3 linked regions of the Homo sapiens genome follow. The protein of the gene in region 3 interacts with the protein of the main gene of each other region in a pairwise test. Each region holds a gene or a part of one and is shown on either strand. Other genes may lie near its edges.

What was found.
Region 1: the proteins of NEK1 (region 3) and ZNF350 interact in a two-hybrid assay, tested with the Homo sapiens proteins (one study listed by BioGRID and IntAct).
Region 2: the proteins of NEK1 (region 3) and CTNNAL1 interact in a two-hybrid assay, tested with the Homo sapiens proteins (one study listed by BioGRID and IntAct).

The regions. Positions count from the first base shown.
Region 1 is NC_000019.10:51,976,806-51,983,915, reverse strand, and holds part of ZNF350 (zinc finger protein 350), read left to right. Parts: exon of another isoform or gene 1-137; intron 138-1,884; exon of another isoform or gene 1,885-2,181; intron 2,182-2,548; exon of another isoform or gene 2,549-2,989; intron 2,990-7,110. UniProt on the Homo sapiens protein: Transcriptional repressor. Binds to a specific sequence, 5'-GGGxxxCAGxxxTTT-3', within GADD45 intron 3.
Region 2 is NC_000009.12:109,010,468-109,017,912, forward strand, and holds the start of CTNNAL1 (alpha-catulin), read right to left. Parts: upstream 3,033-7,445; 5' UTR 2,976-3,032; coding exon 2,835-2,975; intron 1-2,834. UniProt on the Homo sapiens protein: May modulate the Rho pathway signaling by providing a scaffold for the Lbc Rho guanine nucleotide exchange factor (ARHGEF1).
Region 3 is NC_000004.12:169,476,548-169,483,657, reverse strand, and holds part of NEK1 (serine/threonine-protein kinase Nek1), read left to right. Parts: intron 1-4,123; coding exon 4,124-4,255; intron 4,256-5,277; coding exon of another isoform or gene 5,278-5,286; exon of another isoform or gene 5,287-6,134; intron 6,135-6,160; coding exon 6,161-6,226; intron 6,227-6,305; coding exon 6,306-6,534; intron 6,535-7,110. UniProt on the Homo sapiens protein: Phosphorylates serines and threonines, but also appears to possess tyrosine kinase activity. Involved in DNA damage checkpoint control and for proper DNA damage repair.

The sequences.
Region 1 (7,110 bases), on a different chromosome or scaffold from region 3:
TATTTTTTGCAAGGTGGAAATGAGAGACTGAGAAAAGAAATCAGACACAGAGAGAAAGTACAGAGGAAGAAAAGTGGGCCCAGGGGACTGGTGTTCAGCATATGGGGGACCCACACCGGCACTGGTCTCTGAGTTTTGTTAGTATTTATTGATTACTATTTTTACCATCTTGGTGAGGGGGGTGTGGCAGGACTATAGGGTAATGGTGGGGAGAGGGTCAGTAGGAAAACATGTGAGTAAAGGACTCTGTGTTATAAATAAGTTTAAGGAAAGGTCCTGTGCCTTGATGTGTACGTAGGCCAGATTTATGTTTGACTTTACACAGACATCTTAGTGTAGTAAAGAGTAGTATTGCCGCCAGTATGTCTCACCTTTAGTTATAAGGTGGTTTTCTCCTATCTTAGTAAATAGAATGTATGATTGGGTTTTATACCGGGACATTCCATTCCCAGGGAGGAGCAGGAGACAGATGGCTTTCTCTTATTTTAACTGTAAAGAGGTCTTCCTCTTTCACTAATCCTCCTCAGCACAGACCCTTTACGAGTGTTGGGCTGGGAGATGGTCAGGTTTTTCCCTTCCCACGAGACCATATCTCAGGCTGTATCAGTGGGAGGAAACCTTGGACAATACCCAGGCTTTCTTGGGCAGAGGTCCCTGCGGCCTTCCGCAGTGCATTGTGTCCCTGGGTACTTGAGACTGGAGAATGGTGATGACTTTTACCAAGCATACTGCCTGCAAACACATTTTAACAAAGCACGTCCTGCACAGCCCTAAATCCATTAAACCTTGAGCCAACACAGCACACGTTTCTGAGCACAGGGTTGGGGCTAGGGTTACAGATTAACAGTATCTCAAGACAGAGGAACTTTTCTTTGTACAGATTAAAATGGAGTTTCTTATGTCTTCCTCTTTCTATATAGACACAGTAACAGTCTGATCTCTCTTTCCCCCACACCTTCCTCAGCTTCCCAAAGTGCTAGGATTACAGGCGTGAGCCACGGCGCCCTTAGTTCCATTTATTGAAAAGACAGCTTTTATCTACTTCCCTGTAGTGCTATCATTGCCATTGAGTCTCTATATGTGCTTAATTCTGCTTATAAGGATTTTATTCTGTTCCTTTGTCCTATTTGCCTGTTATTGTACTAATATTGTGCTGTCCTAATTAAAGTAGCTTTATAAGTCCTCATAACTGATATGGCAAGTCTTCTAACTTTTTTTTCAAACTTTAAAAAAAAGTTTATAGCTATTTAAACTTTTCAGTATCAGTTTGGGATTGTGACTGTGATTTCATTGAATCTGTAGATTTGGGAGACTTGACATTTTTAAAATGCTTTGTTTTCCAGCCCATCTTTATAGTACATCTTTGCATTTATTTAAAACTGTTAAAATTTATCTCAGTAAATCTAATTTTAAAAATATATTCGAGTTCTTCTAAATGATATCGTTTATGTCAGCCTAAAAGAGGAAACTGCACAAAATACAATTTTAAAGAGTTTACTTGAGCCAAAATGAGGACAGCTGCCTGGGAAAATACTTTCAGGTTGCCTTGGTTAAGTGCTCTGTTAGGATTTTGTTAGAAACAGGTTTTAAAGTCAAAAGGGAACAAACCGTGAGCTGACATAAAGTTGTTTGGCAAGAATTCTCATTGGTTTACAGAAATAATATCAATTAACAATTGGCTGTACATTGTTAACTATGGGGTTTTATGAGTTAGGATGTCCAGTGAATGGCATTTTATGGCTACTCAGTGTGAGTTAGTCTAGAGCCTACATAGCAAGTGGCTTTAAGAGATAATTATTTAGCTTGAGGGGGAAATGAGATGTGACTATTGTCACATTAAATTTTTTTTTTAGTTTTTAATTTTTTCTTTTTTCTTTTTTTCAGGGGAACCCCTATCAGAAAGACTGCTGTCACATTTTAATGCCTCTCTAGACCTGATAATTTAAAGGGAGTCACATTCCTCAGATAAAAGATTCATTTCTTTCTCATTTATAAATTTTATTTTGTTTGTTGATGGTCTGTTCTGTCAGTTACTAGGAAAGGTCTGTTAAAGTCTTTAGTCTGAATTTTCTATTTCTTGTTTTTGGTTCTATTTTTTGCTGTATACATTTCAAGACTGTTGTTAGGGGTATACATATGGTGTATTTCTATGAATGAAGAGCCAAATTTCACCTCTTTTCAGTGAGCATTGTTTCTCTTTCTCTCTGTTAATTCTTTAGGATTTCTGGTCAGTTTTGTCTGAGATATAGTTATAACAGATTATCTTTGGTTACTCTCTCTGTGGCATATTGTCTCCAACCTTTTATTCTCAAGCTTCCCATATCATTTTGGTTCAGACATATCAACTATAATAACCGCATGTGGGGAGGCTGAGGCGGGTGTGTGATGAGATCCGGAGTTGAAGGCCAGCCTGACCAAGATGCTGAAATCCGATCTCTACTAAAAATACAAAAATCAGCCAGGCGCGGTGGCGGGCCGTAACCCACATGGACCCATGGGACTGCACAAATGGGGGTGAACGTGGGAATAAAGACAGGAGACAAAAGAGTATATTTGGGAGAAGGGGTCAGGGAGCACCTTACCTCTAGTGGACAAGGGCCCTGAGCTTTACACAGCCCTCCGTATTTATTAGGCAAAAGAGATAGGAGGGTGGGGGGGTGGAAGAAGGGGTCGGCTGCTCAGTTCAGAGTAGGCTTGCAAGACTGCATTCTCTAGATGTCGCAGTAGATAACCTCGGTGCCAGGGAGTGATTGCCTCCAGCAAACCTTATGTTGGCAGGAGCAGTCCTGAGTTTGCTCACATCCTGTATTCATGATAAACAGTTTGCTGTTTGATCATATAGCCTCCAGCAGAATGCTGAGTTGGTCACGTCCCACAGGCCTTTGGCTCCCTGCATATCCCCCTTTCTGTTTATGTATTAATTGAAAGAATGTAAGGCTGGGCTGGGAGGCTCTCATTCTCCAATTGGTGGTCCATCCGATTTTACAGACTATAAACCGAAGACAGAGACAAAACAACATTATTCCAAGAACTACATATAAGATGTTAATGTGGTGCCTTAGATAGGTCCAAGGGTTGAGGCTCTCCAGGCCTTCCTGGAATTCGGTCCAGTCTTCTAAAGAAGGCTGAAATTCTTGAGTTTGCCTATTTAAATCAATAATTTTGTTTTGTAATTCACCAATATCAAAGGTGATGTTGGATGTGAAAGCTCCTTGCAAATGGGCTTTCACAAGGTCCCACGGATACTCACTTTGGTTATATTCTGAGTTAGTTACGCAAATATGAATGTGATTAAAATGATGACGCAATTGCTGCTGCAACTGCAAGCTTTGTACCTGTTCTCCTAACCACAGAACCATGGATTTCAACATTGCCACTTCAGTTTGTAACTCAGTGTTAATTTTATTCTGAAGTAGCCTCGCTTGGTCAGCTGTGCGTGTCCAGTTCTCCACCTACTGAGATGTTTGAATAGAATTATGCAGAGTTACAGAAGATATCACAACAGAAGTTATTAGTTTGACCAAGGAAACAATAGCAAAAATTATGCCTAAGGCTCTATGGACACAGTGAGTAAGCTGAGTTAGAAGAAGTGTTACAAAAATGCAAAGCAGGTGTGGCAGCCCAAGGCTCAGACAGATTAACAAGAATCCATAGCCCAGGGATGCAACCCAACATTATCAAAGTAGAGATATTATGTGTTCGTAATGTGCTATGATTAATGCAGTGTGATATAACTGGCAAGATTTACAGGTCAATTGGGTATTGTTTACCTGAAGCTGGTTCTTCTTAGCTGCCAAAAAGGCATAAGGATTAAAAACACAAACTGTAAACTGAGTGGTGATATTCTTTACAAATGCAACATTAAGACTGTGTTGCTTACTATTGCTATTATTAGACAGTGTTCCAATCCAGATGTTGCCATTCATAAATGGGAGTGCTGCCTTCCATATAGTTTCTTGAATTGGTCCTTTCCTCCCCAGATAATGCAACTGAGGAAGAGGTGGGCTAAAGCCTGCTCCATGCCAAGCAATCTGAGCAGCAGACTGGGATTGGATTCTGCTGTTGTATAAAGAAGAAGCATTAAAAGCTTGCCGCCAATGCCAGTGAAGTTTGTGCCATGATTTCTGACTTTCACCTTTTCCATCTAATTGACCTTTAGGTTCCCAATCCACAGTGTCTTCAGTTGACATATATTGTTTACTAGCCAGTGGATCAAGACACTGGGTCCACAGAGTGGGGTAGGAACTATTGAATGGAATCCATTCTGTATAATCAGCACAATTAGGGTGACTGGACTGGGAATGATTGGTTAGCACACCAGTTACATTAATAGAACCAAGACCTAATAAGTACATAATTTTTCCATAGTGACTCAACCATGTTTGAGCTTGAATTGCAAGACAGCTATGGCTGAGCGACGTCTTTGTGGTGATAAACAAAGGGAGTCCTTCCAGTGGAGTGGTATAATTAATGACATTGTTCTGAGAGTCTAACTTTTCTATGTCACGGGGAGTTAGGGGTCCTGGAGCCCACTCTCCCTGATCGTGATAAATCTCAGGAGGAGTGAGCTCCAAAGTATAGGCCATACTGCTGGGGGATTGGGAACATATGCCCAATATGTTTTTGCCTGTGCACAGGGAAAACGTAGTGCACAGGACATTATGGCTAACATGGCCAAGAGCATGGAATCAGGGGTTTTGCCTGTCCCTGACACTCCAGTAGTTTCTCAGCTTCCTGTGTGGTTTTCTTGAGTTGTCCCCAGGTTATGGGGGTTGATGTCATCATGACTCTGGTTGGCCTTCTCTCCATCTTTGCACTCAGGCTCAGCTGACTCATAGCTCGTACAGGAGGGACTGGGCCCATGGTTGGCCACCCTGGGTTCCTCCAGTCTCCCATTCCATGGTCGCATGCACCTTGAGGGCACCCACATGGCTTGTCCCATCTCCTGTAAACACACAAGCATACCCTCTTCCCCAGGTCAGTAAATCTACCGGGCCTTTCCATTGTTGTCCTTCTGGGGATTTCCATAACACTTTCAGATAAACTTTGCTTTTTTCCTCTAACACTTGCCAATGTCTTTCTGCTGGAGTCTTACCATCCATACCGGGAGTCAGAAAATTTAAAGTAAATAAGGCTAAATGTAGTTTTGATTGAGGTGGTAGTTGGCCTCCTATACCCCCTTTTTGTTTTTTCAACATGCGTTGTAATGTTTGATGTGCCCATCCTATAGATATGACTGACACATCAGCTCCCATGTCCATAAGCCCATAAAATTTCTTTCCTTTAATGTGTACTACACAGGTAGGTCTATTAGAGGCTATGGGTTGGGAAAGATAGATTTCCCATGTAGTTGTGCTCCCAAACCCTTTATTTCCTCATTTCTCTTTTCATGGGGAAGGGTGTAATTCACAGGGAATAAGCAATAATTGAGCAATATATTCTCCCAGTTCAAAAACCCAAAGATTTTGTGACATTAAAACTACTTGAATTTCTCCTTCATAATCGGAGTCAGTCATTCCTAGGACTACAGTGATGCCTTGCAAGTTAAGGCAGCTTTTACCTAAAATTAGTCCTGTGTATCCTGTCGGTAAAGGTCCCCAAATACCCAAATAGGTTTGTCTCCCCTAACTAATGTGATTCTTTCTCTGGTGGGTAGATCTAATCCTGCACTTCCTGGTGTTCCTGGGTTGAGGGAATCAATGTGCCTCCAGGAACCCATCCCTGAAGTGGGGTTGTGGTCTGCATTGGGAATGCCCTCATTGTTTGAGGGGCCCGGGTGCAGGCCCCCATCTCATTTACCAATGGGGTGCCATTCTGATGAAATTTTGAGCAGCACTGGGTAGCCCAGTGATTTCCTTTGTTATGGCGAGTACAGAGTCCTGCTGTTTTTTCTGCTAGGGAGTGAACTGCATTGTAATATCCTTTCTGTCCTGAGATCTGGCGGCATTCCTTTTTTAGATGTCCAGTTTTTCCACAATTACAACATTTTCCCACTTTAGGGTTTGACCCTTGGCTCCTTTTAGATTTGTCAACTGCTAAATTAGCCATTGCTTATGCTAACTTTGCAGATCGATGAATCTCAGTTCCTACATCCTGACAAGCTCTGAGAAAATTTCCCAAGTTTTTTGTACACCTCACTGGTGCCAGTGCACGTTTACAGTACACGTTTGCATTCTCAAAAGCTAAAGTTAAGGTTAGCATTTCTGCAGCCACAGTATGAGGAATCTGACGCTTCAGTGCCTCATGTAATCTTGCAAGAAATTGTGCATAGGGTTCCTGCAACCCTTGCATGATATGTAAAAAGGATTGTACAGGGACTCCCTCTTCAGGATTGTGGCCCAGGCGCATTTAGCGGCCTGTGTACACTGCTGATAAGCAGCATCTGGGAGTGCCATTTGACGTTCTACATCTGAATAAGGGCCATGACCTAACAGCATATCCTCTGTAATGTCTCCGTGTCCAGCAGCATGGTTCTGTTTAGCCTGGTCTGCACACATTTCTTGCCAATTTAAATTCCATGTCAGATATGCACTAGCAGACAAGCAAGTTCGCGCCAAGTGTCTCACATCAAAGGGTAAAAAACGCATAGCACCAAACACAGATTCTAGCAATCCTAAGGTGAATGGGCTCTGTATGCCATCATTTACCACTCTTGCTTTTAATTCCTTCAACAACTTAAACTCTAGTGGGGTGTGTTCATGAATAACCTGCTGTGGATTTTTTGGATCAGGCCTGATGGAAATAGGAAAAGCACAATGTCCTAAGGGCTCTCCAGCTATGGCAGCAGAGCATTAAATTCTTTGTATTAGGGTTTCTATTTCTGCCACCGAAGGAGGCAGTACAGATGTTTCTGCAACTGAAGGAGGCAGTATAGGCCAATTTTTATCCTCCCTCTCCTGTTTTTTATTTTTAATTGGAGCTGTGGGTGGGTCAACAAATTCTTTCAGATTTTTAGATTCAGCTTGCTGTCCTGCAGAATAATAATGAGATAATGGCAGAAGTACAGTACGAACTAAACTCCAAGTGGAGAAAACAGAAGAATCGACTTTAAGACCTTTTTGATGAGCCTGTTTTAATCCTTCTCCTGCTGTATCCCAATTTTCCACATCA
Region 2 (7,445 bases), on a different chromosome or scaffold from region 3:
TTAAAGGAAATGTTTATTTTAAATTTGACTGTTGCTATGATGTTAAGTAAAAGTTTTCTGTAGATACTCTATCAGGTTAAGGACACTTTTTCCTAACACTAGTTCCCTAAGTGCTTCTTATCATTATTAGAAGCTGAATTTAGTTGAATGCTTTTTCTGCATCATTGTTAGGAAAATACATCTTTTATAATCTGTGAATGCAAAAAAAACTATACACATTTTTCTAATATTGATAAAATCTTGCATTCTTAGAATAAGGCCAGTAACCCAGGACTTTTCACTTGGAGAGTCAGAAGAAGCTAGATGATACCAGAATAGAAACTGTCTACTTTAAACCGTATAGTGCCAGTCCTACTTGTTTACCTCAAAACCCTGCCTCCTCCATGACATCACTGCTGACTCATCCATGCCTTCTCTGAGCTTTTAGAGTATGTACCATTGATGATGTTCATTTGACACTTTGCATGTGCTGTTCTATACATGACCTATCTACCAACTAGAATATAAGCCCCTCAAAAAACAGCAACAAATAAGCACACAATAAATCCTTGCTTAAAATGCTTAAAATATCCTTGTGGATGAGATGGTGAAACATGAGTTGGGTAATAATACAGCATTCTCAGAAAATGAGACTTGTGGACATATGAGTTTTCTGGAGAACTGCTGTTTTAATCTCCTAACACTGAAACTTTAAAATCATTCTAAATTGTACTTCCCTGCTTTGTTAACCGAGTATTCTGGCCATGCTTAATACACTTCTTGATTTTAACTTTTTCTTGTTAAGGACAGTCAATTATGAGGAATATCAGTTATGGTGTTGTGGTAGAGATGTAGCTGTAGATACACAATGTGTGGGATGCAAAACCTCAGCTGTGACCCTGAACAAGGCTTTAACTGGAAAAAGAAAAAAAAAAAAAGGCAGGCATTCTTCCCCTTTGGCATTGACCTCTAACTCTCAGCAGTGATTTATACTTTTCTTCCTCTGCTCTCCTACCCTTCTCTGGCTTCTTTTACCCCAGAGTTACACAATGCAGAGCTGTAAGACTGATACATTTTTAGCAGTGGATACTGTGAAAAGTTGCCATTTCTCCAGATTATGACTTTCTAGCTTGTTTTTCCACTATGTACCATCTTTTTCTCTAGATCTCATTACTGCTTCTAATCTCTAGAGAGGACACAGCATAGTGTAGCAAAGAGAACCTTCTGGAGCCAGGGTACCTGGATTCAAATCCCAGTTTGGCACTTATTGAAAGCCCTAACAACAAATTATTTAACCTCAGTATTCCTCAGTTTCCTCTCCCATACCACGAGAATATATACCAACTTCACATGATTGTTATGAGAATTAATGAGTTAATATTTACAAAGTGCTTAGAACCTGGCCTACCACATAGTAAGCATTACATAGGTGTTATTTAAAAAATGGATAAAATACTATCAACTTGAACTCCATCACTCTCTTATCTCTCTGCCTCTTAAAACTGCTCCAGTGTTTCTCGTTTTGGTTGTGTTGTGCTAGTGGAGATAGGCGAGGAGCGGAGGGTCTGACATTACTGAGGGATCCCAGTGCCCCTTCCCACTGGTCAGAGCCTCAATGAGACACAGGAAAAGGGAAGGAGAGTGTCAGATATATTCATCACTGCTCCGTTAGCCATGCGAAGGTGAAGAAAATAGGGATGTTTATTTAACCAGCATAACAGGAATCCAGGGACATGTGTAACTGCTGTTTTCAAATATGCGCAGGGCTGGGCAGGAGAAGAGATAATAGCATTTAGAATTCTATGCAACAGCTACAGGCTCCCCTTCACTGAACATGTTTAAGCAGGGTACTGGTGGCCAGGTGTCAAGGATGCTAAAGAAAGAATTTTTAGTCAGATAATCTTTAAGATTTCTTCTACCTCTAAAATCTTGGTAATCCTAGTATGAGTCACGAAGTGGTTACAACCTAGATGTGAGTCACACATCGCCAACGCGCTCCCGAAGGCACAGAATTCACTCCCCACAGTGCTTGGCATCTTACCACAGACCTAAGTGAGGAATTCTAGCCCTGAAGCTGCATATAACCCAGCTCAGAGAAACAAAAACTTTCCTAAAACTCAGGGCGTCGGTTAGCTGATTGGCAAATACAGTAACGCACACATCCCAAACGGGACTTGGCAAAACGGTGTGCATCTGGATTAACTGTCATACAGTCTCCACGTCACTCTTCCACGAGGCCGGACAGAAGCGGGCAGAAGTGAGCAGCAGCAGGTTCAGGGGAAGGGGTAGGGTGGCCGGGATGAATGGGAGGCCAGCGAACTGACCTACGGCGGGGAGGGACAAAGGATCAGGGAGCGCACGCTGGGCGGGGAGGCCGGGAGGAATACCCCAGGCGGAGGAGCCGGGCTCGGGACCAGGCTGCGAACTGGTGACAAAGTCGGTTATCGTGGAGGGCCCTAAGTACCAGCGAGGGGCCCCGCGGGGGTCCTCTCTGCCTCGGGAGCTGGGCTCAACCACTCGCCCCGCGGAGGGGGCATCGCCCGGCCGGGGGCACCCGGGAGCCGCAGACCCGAGGCAGGTACTGGGGGCAAAGGCCCAGGCCGGCACCCCCGCCCCGCAGCCTCCCCTGCTGCCGAGTCCACTCAACCCTGCCGCCGGAGTTTGGATTATCCAGTCTCTCGCCGCCCGGGCCGAGGCCCGTCCCGGAGCCCCACACAGGCGGTCCGACAAGAACGCCGCAGTGCCGGCGCGGAAAGTGGGGCAGCGGCTGCCTCCCGTCCGGTCGTGCGAGCGGCGGCCGCCATCGCGGGCCGCGGCGGGAAGGAGAAGAGGGGCCGCGCCAGGCGCCACTTTACCTGAGAAACCAGCGGGAGTAGCGTCTGCTCCACCGAGCGAGTTTTGATCTCCAGTCCCGAGTCGAGGGCGAAGCCCGAAGAGCCGGAGCCGTAGACTGCTCCGGCGCCGCCAACGCCGGCGGGTCCGGGAGAGGCGGCCATGGCCCTCGGTCTATCCCGCAGCCGGGACTCCGCGCCGCGGCGAGCCTGCCGCCAGTCAGCCCACCCGCCCGAGGCGGCGGCGACAGGACACTCGCGCCAACCGAGACCCCGCCCCCAGGGGCCCGCCCCCCCAGGGCTCCGCCGCCAACCCTGCGTCCCCGACGCCCGTCACCGTATGTCCCCGCCCACCCCCGGCCTCTGCCCCGCCCGCGCAGTCCAGCCTGGTGTGGGCTCCCTGCAACCCCACCCCCTAAGCCGGGTCCCGCCCCCACATGGCCCCGCCCTTATCTCTTCTCAGACCCCTTCCATGGGTTCCAGGCACCTTCTCGCCAGGGTGGCGAGGAGAAACAAAACACATCTGTCACACAGCCACATGGCCTCCTCTTACTTGGACAGACAAGCGTCCCCAGCAAAGCTTCCCGTCCTCTCGATAGGTGACTCGTCCTAAATCAGCTCTGAATTCCCGCAAAGACTTCTGGAAGCTGTGCTGGGGTTGAAACTGGTAGACCAAAACCAGAATCAAGTCTGTTGGGAGGGGCCTTTCCCCTGGGACGGGAATTCCAGTGGTAATGTCTTCCTGGGGCTTCTCCGGAAGGTCCAATTTCCACTCCACCCTGCTCATTCTTTCACCATGTATTTCTCACAAACACTTTGAGCTGGATTGAAGGGGAAACATTTGATAATGCAATCATTAATGGAGTATCTGGGTATTCGGCAGGAAGTCAGTATATCTTTCACACTACTGTTTAGACTTATTCAAAAGAAATTTAAAAGAAACATGAAAAAGCCTCATCTACTGTTCAACACTACTTCTTAAAACTATTTTTCGAAGTTTTTTCCTAGTGCCAGGCACAGAGCAGTTTCTTCATAACTGTTCATTGCATGAAAACACCAAGTGTGTATTTCTGACAACTCACTTGAGGGGAAGGGTAAGAATCAGTTCTGTAAGCACAACTCTGAGCTCGCACAGAGCCCCACGATGGGGGCGGGGAGCTGAAGACTCCTATTCTAAGGTCTCCAGGAGCAAGGCCAAAAGGAGGTTGTCAGCAGTATGCACGCCGTGAAGGAATTCCAGACTTAAGCAACAGACTGAGAAGCATGAAAAAATGTTTTGTCAACTACCATATCTGCCAGTGAGAACCTGTCAGAGTAAAAAAGAATCTGAGGCTGGCCAGTCCACCCGGACACCTTGGCCTGGATCATTTCTTCTTCCATAACACCAGATTGATGAGCTGGGTACATCAACCTGAGGCATAAGAAAGCTCTTTCCCAAGCACCGTTGAAAGGCGCTTCACAGTGCTTCAACCTGTAGCTTCAGCTTCATCAATCTACCAGTGCTGCACAGCTGTCTTTGGTATTGAAGATAGCCAAGCTTCAGCTTCTTTTTCTTCATTCAAAAAGGACAGGTCCTCAATCCAACTTTTTCTTCCAATTCTTCTCAGCCAACCATCTCACCACTTCCTTACCTATCACAAGGCCACCTTCCCCTGTGCACTGAGGGCCCTTGACCTCTTTAAGGCGCCCAGTGTCCACTTCCTGGACACACCTTCCCTTACGAAGTTGACAGTATCTCCTAAGAATTCAGTGTACACAATGGTGCCGGAGGAAATGGCATAACAGAAGGCCTAAGAGACGGATGGATTCATGAAACTTTGGCTTCACAAAAGATCAAGTTTTTCAACACACAGGAGATTAAGTTTACCACATGATTCATTCAACACTAGTAATTTTATTTCAAAATATAAATATTTCACATTAATAAAGAAGTTACATCAGTAGGTTGTCAAAGCAAGTTAGCTAAGAAACAGCATTTGTGTGAGAACAGAGGGTATTTATTGTATTCGAATATTCTTTTTTACTTTTGAATTGCCTCCTTCACCTGAGAACCCAGGGATGATACATTTTCAAAGAGTTATGTAAGCAATTACAACTCTATATCAAATCTTAGTTCAAAATCAAATTGTACTGGAAATACACTTCAGTTACCTAAATAAGTGGCACTGCAAAGGGCAAAGAAGGGTTTTCTTTGGGATGGCTACAATGAGAGTTACATCTGCTGGGTCTCTGCAATAAAAAATAAATGATATTTGATAATAAGCCAAAATTATCAGGATTTGCTTCCATACTTTTCACTGTAAAATAAAAAGCTAGCAAAAAGCTAGTAAGAAACCAGATGTCTAGTAAAGAACTCTGGACTTGGAGTCAGAAGTTCTGCAACTAAATTCTGGCTCCATCATTTTGTGGTATAAACTTAGGGGAATATCACCAAAAACTTTTCAGAGCCTCCAGAGCCCCCCCATCTGTACAATAAGGATAATATTGTCTGTCTCACAGGGCTGTTACAAAAGGTGTCTGAAAACTATAAAGTGCCATACAAAAGCATTATTAAAATGTAATATCAATATATCACCACTGTATTTGCACATTAGTTGATCCTTGAAAAACCTGCAAAATTAAACACAATACTGATTTTACACACCACAGGTGGAAAAGAATCTCTATACCTTAAGTATAGCTCTAAACAGCAAATATACTTGCTTTCTGGACTTCAAGATTTATTACACACTACATGGTACCACAGTAATAGATCTGCCATTCAGTATTTCCATTAGGGATGTCTTCTCAAAGAGTTGTAAACTTGATCAAGGGCCATGTTTCTCAAAGGACCCTGTAGTCCTTTGAGATGCTCTGAGGAATAAAGAAGGGGAGTGCAGTCTAAGGTCAAACAGTGTTTGTCCCCTTTTATAAATTCACAATGTGTAATAGCATGTTCAAAACTCTTAGAAGTCCTACAGTAAGGAAACAAACTCAGCATTCCTTCATTTTAATTGACCATGCAATCCCCCACCCCCAACACACACACACTTTTTTTCTTACATCTATTAACATCTCTTGGAACTACTGCTATATGGAACACATTTTGCCAAAAGCTGCTCAACCATGAAGAAAAGGAAAGAGAAGTAGAACAACGGACTGACAGAAAAAAAAGAACTCTATTCTATTCTGAATTCTGTTACTAACTGGCTGTATGTGTATGTCAGACAAGCCACTTAAACCTATGAATTTGGGTCTTTCTCTAGAAAGTGACAGGACCACCTAATTTTAGAAGTCCCATTCTAGCACAGAATTTCTGACTCTAGTAGACAGAACAACTTGATTTATAATTCTCTTAAACTATCAAAAATAACCAAACAGTGGCTGCAGACAGCATGTGTGTTTTTTTTTTTTTTTTTTTTTGCAGGTTCCCAATAATCGGTAAGTTAATAAAATGAATATATTTTGATGGCAGAATGTTGAAAGACAAGAAACTAATAAAAAGTACTTGTTTTTAGCTGGAACTAGCATTTGGAAGTAATGCTAGCCAGAGGCTATTTCCACTGTGAAATGCACACTCAAAGTCCTATTGTAATATTATTTTAAGGGTCTTAGGAGGCCCCTCAGAGGAGACTGCAAGGTCAGGGCTAGAGTATGAGAAGTCCTAAGGGTTTTTGTATTTTGTTTTTTTTTCCTATAAACCCTGAGGTTGAAAGCTCTGGATAGCTCACCTAAATTACTTTCCTCTAATCTAACCCCTCACAGCCTGAATTTCTGAGTATTGCTTGACCAGTAGTGACACATTCCTGAGGCACTAATATAACCCAAATGGAAACTACAGGTCCTAGGAAATCCAGATAGGTCACAATGGGTTCATGTGAAGATCAAGGTGAGCCAGAAGATCTCATCTGCAAGCCATTTAGCAGCCCTTTAACTGTAAAAAGCAGTTCCACTTTCAAAGGCTACAGAGTTTGTTTACATACAAGGTCTCCATGTAACATGTTGGATTTCTTCCCACTGTCATGGGCCAACCCACACTAGACTCAGAAGTCAAGGGAAAGCTCTGCCAGCTAAACACTTCTTATCAAAGAGGGTGTGAAGAAACCTTGCAATTTTAACAATAACTAAGACCAGCATGTAAGGTGGTCTTACAGAGATCACTTGCAGGAACAGATATTGATAGGAACTTCAGAACTCAAACAGCACTCACATAACATGGAATTTATGCTGAAAATCCCATGCCTTCTCTCTCAGAAAAGAGAGGAGCATACCTGTGTGGAGAGCTTGTATTTTCTCCCCTCCCATCCATTCGGTTTACAACTGAATAGCGAATGTGAACTTGAAACTAATCTTTAATAAATCTATAAAATGCAAGATATTATGACCAAGTTCTGTACTCCGTTTTTACTGAAATGACTTCTACTTCATCAACGTACGGTCTGTTCCTGAAGAAACTTCCTCTTTCTGGGTCAAATTCTGACTGAGAATGTAAAGGTAGGTTATCTTTGAGACTTGAGCTTAAAACTCCTACCTTTTCATACCACTTGATCTCTGTTGCCCTGTGAAAATTCTGTAAACCTTCCTCATTGCATCTGAGGAATCATGCTGGAATGCTTCTTTCTGGCTCGGAGGGTTCCAAGACCTCCCCAGCTAGTG
Region 3 (7,110 bases):
CATGACCTTGTGATCCACCCGCCTTGGCCTCCCAAAGTGCTGGGATTACAGGTGTGAGCCACTGCGCCCGGCCTATTTGTAGTAACATCTTAAATATCAGTATACTTTTTCAATAATACTGAACTATGGGACTAAAGCAATGTTTCCATCCTTTTTTGAACAAAATAAATACAGGCATACTTTGTTTTATTGTGCTTCATAAATACTGCATTTTTTACAAATTGAAGGTTTGTGGCAACCCTGCATCAAGCAAGTCTATCAGTGTCATTTTCCCAACAGCTTTTGCTCATTTTGTGTCTTTGTGTCACATTTTTGTAATTCTTGCCATATTTCAAACTTTTTCATTATTGTCATTATATCTTTGATATTACTGTTGTAATTGTTCTGAGGCACCACAGACTTCACCCATATAAGATGGGAAATTTAATTGATGAATGTGTGTGTTCTAATTGCTCCACTGACTGGTAGTTCCCCTGTCTCACTCCTCAGATCTTATTCCCTAAGACAAAATAATATTGAAATTAGGCCACTTAATGACTTACAGTGGCCTCTTAAGTATTCAAGTAAAAGAGTTGCATGTCTGTCACCTGAAATCAAGATTAAGCTTGGTGATGAAGGCATATTGAAAGCTGAGATAGGCACAGAATTAAGCCTCTTGCGCCAGTTATCCAAGTTGTGAATGCAAAGGAAAAGTTCCTGAAGGAAATTAAAAGTGCTACCCCAGACCAGGTGCAGTGGCTCACGCCTGTAATCCCAGCATGTTGGGAGGCCGAGGCAGGTGGATCATGAGATCAGGAGTTTGAGACCAGCCTGGCTAACATAGTGAACCCCATCTCTACTAAAAATACAAAAAATTAGCTGAGCGTGGTGGTGTGTGCCTGTAATCCCAGCTACTCAGGAGGCTGAGGCAGGAGAATCATGTAAATCCAGGAGGGAGGCGGAGGTTTCACTGAGCCATTGCACCCCATTGCACTCCAGCCTGGGCGACAGTACAAGACTCCATCTCAGAAAAAAAAAAAGTTCTACTCCAGTGAACACACATGATAAGAAAGCGAAACAGCCAGGTGCCTGTAGTCTCAGCAACTCGGGAGACTGAGGCACGAGAATTGCTTGAGGCCAGAAGTTTGAGACTAGCATGGATGACATAGTGAGAACCTGTCTCTAAAAAAAAAAAAAGAAAGAAAGAAAGAAAGAAAAATTAGCTGGATGTGGTGGCACACACCTATAGTCCCAACCACATTGAGAAGCTAAGGCAGAATGATCATTTGAGCCTAGGATTTCAAGGTTGCAGTGAGCTATTATTGTGCCTGGATCTGCACTCCAGCCTGGGTGACAGAGCAAGACCCCATCTCTTAGAAAAAAAAGAAAGAAAGAAAGCAAAACAGCCTTCTTGCTGATATGGAGAAAGCTTTAGTGGTCTAGATAGAAGATCAAACCAGCCGCAACATTCTCTTTGGCCAAAGCCTAATCCAGAGCAAGGCCCTAACTCTCCTCAATTCCGTGAAGACTAGGAGAGATAAGGAAGCTACAGAAGAAAAATTGTTGGCTAGCAGAGATTGGTTCATAAGGTTTAAGGAAAGAAGCCACCTCCATAACATGAAAGTGCAAGGTAAAGCAGTAAGTGCTGATGGAGAAACTGCAGTACATTATCCAGGAGATATAGCTAAGATCATTGATAAAGGTGGTAATACTAAACAACAGATTTTCAGTGTAGATAAAACAGCCTTCTATTGGAAGAAGATGCCATCTAGGACTCTCATAACTAAAGAGAAGTCAATACCTGGCTTCAAAGCTAAAGAGAAGTCAATAGCTGGCTTCAAAGCTTCAAAAGACTGGCTGACTCTCTTGTTGGGAGCTAATGCAGCTGGTGACTTTAAGTTGAAGCCAGTGCTCATTTGCCATTCTGAAACTCCTAGGACCCTTAAGAATTATGCTAAATCTATTCTATTTGTGTTCTATAAATGGAACAATAAAGCCTGGATGACTGCACATCTGTTAACAGCACGGTTTGCTGTAAATATTTTAAGCCCACTGTTGAGACCTACTGGTTAGAAAAAAAAAATTATTTCCAAATATTACTACTCATTGACAAGGCACCTAGTTACCCAAGAGCTCTGATGGAGATGTATTATACAAAGAGATTCATGTTGTTTTCATGCCTGCTAACACGACATCCATTCTGCAGCCAATGTATCAAGAAGTCATTTTGACTTTCAGGTCTTCTTATTTAAGAAATACATTTTTTTAAGGCTGTAGCCATAGATAATGGTTCCTCTAATGGATCTGGGCAAAGTAAATTGAAAGCCTTCTAAAAAGTATTCATCATTCATCATTCTAGATGCCATTCAGAACTTTTTTGATTCATGGAGTTAATGTCATGTTAATGTTAATGTCAACATTAACAGGAGTTTGGAAGAAGTTGACTCCATTCTTCAAGATTTCAGTGGAGGAAGTCAGTGTAGATGTGGTAGAAATAGCAAGAGAAGTAGAATGGCAAGGGGAGCCTGAAGATATGACTGAATTGCTACAATCTCATGATAAACTTGAATGGATGAGGAATTGCTTCTTATGGAGGAGCAAATAAAGTGGTTTCTTGAGGTGGAGTCTACGAAGGTGAAGCTGTTTTGAACATTGTTGAAATGATAAGGGATTTAGAATATTTTGTAAACTTAGTCGATAAAGCAACAGCAGGGTTTGAGATGACTGACTCCAGTTTTGAAAGAAGTTCTACTGTGGGTAAAATGCAACAGCATCACATGCTGCAGATAAATATTTTCATGGGCTGGGCACAGTGGCTTACGCTTGTAATCCCAGCACTTTGGGAGACTGAGTCAGGACAGTCATTGAAGCCAGAAGTTCAAGACCAGCCTAGGCAATATAGTGGACCTCATCTTTATTTAAATAATAAAGAATTTTAAAAATATTTTTACAAAATCAAAAGAATATTTTCATGAAAGAGTCAATGGATGCAGCAAACTTCATTTTTGTCTTATTTTAAGAAATTGTCATAGCCACCCCAACATCCAGGAGTCACCACCCTGATCAGTCAGTAGCCATCAGTATCAAGGCAAGACCCTCCACCAGCAAAATAATTACAATTCATTGAAGGCTCAGAAGAATCATTAGCTTTTTTTTTTTTTTTTTTTTAGGAATGAGGTGTTTATTAAGGTGTGTACATTGTTTTTTAGACATAATGCTGTTGCACACTTAATAGGCTACAGAATCGTGTAAACATAAATTTTGTATGCTCTGAGAAACCCCAGAATTTGTGTGACTCACTTTATTGCAATATTACCGTTATTGCAGTGGTCTGGAACCAAGTGCGTAATATCTCAGAGGTATGCCTGTATTGTTGTAAAGTGAAGGTCTAGAAGCCTAAATATTAAGATTGTATTATTACTGTATTTTTAGAAGATACTCAATAAATATTGTGTTTGAAATGTATACTCCCCAGAAAGTCTTGTTTCCTAGATTGAGGAAGACTAGGAATAGGGAGTAGGGAGTAAACTTCCTGCTGTGTTACTATTGTCATACCCATAAATGTCATTTCCTTGTATTAATTCAGGTTTCATAATCTTACTTTGTTTAGAGTTTAAATGGCAACATAAAAACAAGCACATATGTTAATACAACATGATGTTTTCAGTGAAGTAAATCTTATTACCTGGATCTGTTTCTCCTTCCATTCTCATTTATGTTGGCATTTTTATGAGGGCTCTTATGTTGAGTAATTGATATTTGAACTTTGAGAAGATTGTACCCAAACCTGCAGGAATTACAAAAGCATTTCTTTTAGAAGTGTAAGATTAACAAAATCTTACACTTGAATCTTTAAAAGACAGTTTTTCAGGATCATTTCATGAAACATTGATAATGCAATGAAAGCGGGTTATTTAGGACTATGTGACATGACTATGTGTACATCTGAGACCAGAGATTTTTTTCTCTAGTCACTGCTGTATCCCCAGCATGTAGCATCATAATGCCTTGCTCAACAGATAATTCAGGAATGAAAAAAACTACTTGTGGATAGAGTGGATAAATAGTGATCTGGTAGGTACCATTTTATTTCTTCATACAAATATAAAATCCCTAATGTATTTAATAAAATCCTTTTTTATAGTTGGTGGCTAAAGGAGTTAAGAGTTCTGATGTTTCTCCACCTTTGGGACAGCATGAAACAGGTGGCTCTCCATCAAAGCAACAGATGAGATCTGTTATTTCTGTAACTTCAGCTTTGAAAGAAGTTGGCGTGGTAAGTTTCCTAAGATTCAGAACTCCTCAAAGTCAAAAGATTATTTAAAAGGAAATTAAATTTAATGAAATCACATTAATCCCTAATGTCCCTTTCAGGTTTTTCTAAGGAAAAAAATTACTTTTTAAGGGATTTTAGTTTACTCAGAATACTGGAGCCTCATTGTTTATAAGTTTTATATCTAGGACCACGTGGTAGATGAAAATATATCACAATAACTCTTATATTACTTTAAAAGAATATTGAAAAAATAAAATATACAGAGAAATGTACTGAAAATAATACTATAAACATTTTTCTACCCAACCCTCATGATTAACAAATGTTCACTTTAAAAAGAATAATGTCTCTTTGGTGCTAAAGTAGCTCTAGGTATTAGGTCCAACACATATTTACATTTATTCAAATTTTGTGACATGGCAAATGTTAGAGGACTCAGTAGAACTAGTTAATTCATCAGTTATTCCTTTTACCTTCTACTTCTGAATCTCTGTCATGCCCTACAGATAGTAAAACAAAGAAACATAGACAAATAAAAAGCTTAAACTTAGAAGTATATTTCAGGTATCTGTCTGAAGTGTGAAGACTGTTCAGGGGTTAAGAGAAGTGGGCTCATAGTGTGGAGCTGCGGCCTAGAATTCAACAGACAGGAGGAGAAAAGTCTACTGAATCAGATAACATAATAACTTCATTTTCCCCTTTCCTGGTAATGGATGTCTGTGCTTTTTATTTGTTTAGTTTCAGTAAATATTTGCAGACAAAATTGGTACACTAGCTGTTTTTTTTTATAGCCTTTGGGTTGATTTTGAAAATAAAACTCAGTAGGAAAATATAAGTTTCTTGATCATTCTCAAGAACTTCATGTAAGAAACTATTGTTCTTCAAGTAGGCTTAGTCACTTTTTCTTTCTGATAACGACTTTGCGTGTGCCACGTTGTTACTCCAACTTTAGATACCACTGTGTGGTCCCTCCTTGGTACCCAGTCTCACATCTCAATAGCTGTTCATCTCTCTGGTTGTAGGACTGCTAATTCCTGACTACTTTACTGGGTAAAATGTTCTTTGTCTCATTGCTTCATATATTACTTTGAAACTGACCACCAAATTTTTAATTTTTTTTAAGTATTACAAAATTCGAGGTAATCCATATAACTGAACGGTTTTCTTTCTGTGTTGTGTTGGTAAATGTCACTTACTTAAAACTTAGAAAATTGTTCTTTGAATCTTCTACATGCCTTTGCTTTCATAGCTTTCGTAACTGCTAATTTCTTCTTTTCGTATGTTTTTTAATTTTAGATAGTCTGGATTGCTTTGACAATGCTAATTAGGAGATAACATTTATGTCATTTGTAGTACAAATGACTCAGAACTAATTTTTGTTACACTCTTTGTTTAGGGAGGAAAGCCACTTCTCAATTACATTTAGTACTATGGCTTAACAAGGATATATATACATGAAACATAAAGACAGTTTTAGAATAACACAGCCTATTTTGAATTACTTCATCTATCAAAACTTTTTCTAGTTATAATTAAGAGAGTATATGAATTTTCCTCTAATTTCTACTTTTTCCTCTAATTTCTACTTTTTCCTCTAATTTTCTGACTTAAATTACCAAAAAATCAGGTACCAAAGAGGAAGAGGATATAGTTAATTATGTGAGCAGTAATCTAAAAATATGACAAATAATTGAGAATTGGCCCCTGTCTATGTTGTCTAATTAATAATATTTAAAGGTTAGTCATTGCTGATAATGAAGGAAGCTTTGTTAACATTTTATAGGAATAAAAAATTTACAAGGAACAAATTAATGAAAACCAAAAAGTAACGAGGATGTAATATTTTTAAAGGTAGATTTAAAAAAATAAAATTATCTCTTCCTCTGTATCTATCTGCATTTAAAGGACAGTAGTTTAACTGATACCCGGGAAACTTCAGAAGAGATGCAAAAGACCAACAATGCTATTTCAGTAAGTAAAATTTTCAAAGTTTATCAATCATTTTACTTAATGATATACATATTAAAATATATAATGTCGTGACTTTCAGAGTAAGCGAGAAATACTTCGTAGATTAAATGAAAATCTTAAAGCTCAAGAAGATGAAAAAGGAAAGCAGAATCTCTCTGATACTTTTGAGATAAATGTTCATGAAGATGCCAAAGAGCATGAAAAAGAAAAATCAGTTTCATCTGATCGCAAGAAGTGGGAGGCAGGAGGTCAACTTGTGATTCCTCTGGATGAGTTAACACTAGATACATCCTTCTCTACAACTGAAAGTATGTATAGTAGTATATTAATATCCTATTTAGGTCTAGTACATATGTAAACTTATAGACTAACCACTCTGAAAAAAATGAACACTTAGAAGAATTGAGAGAAGCTGAAAGAATTCTATATATTTTCCTTTTGGGCGAATAGAAGTGCCTCCCTCTCACAGTGAAATGTGAAGAGCAGAGAAAACTAATCAAACTAATCAGCCTTAATAGCAAGGATTTTTATTACAAAAGTGTATAGTGTGAGAGAGGGAACTAATGATACATATTTAAATTGCATTACTTTAACTCTGTATACCATGTTAAATTAATCTGTTACTATGAATAATTCTTGATGAGAACCAGGGTAGTGTCTCAGAAACATCTCTTAGGCATTTAGCGAGAGTATTGAGAAAATCTGACTTAATGATTTATATATTCGGTGATAATTACTGAGAATCTATATTTCTTACATTGTTCTAGGAATTGGAGATATAGGAACAAAACAGAAACATATGTGCTCTTGTGGAGCTTACATTCTAGAAGGGCAAGTCTGACCATCAACAAATCTGATTTTAAGTAATTTTTTTCACAGACTGT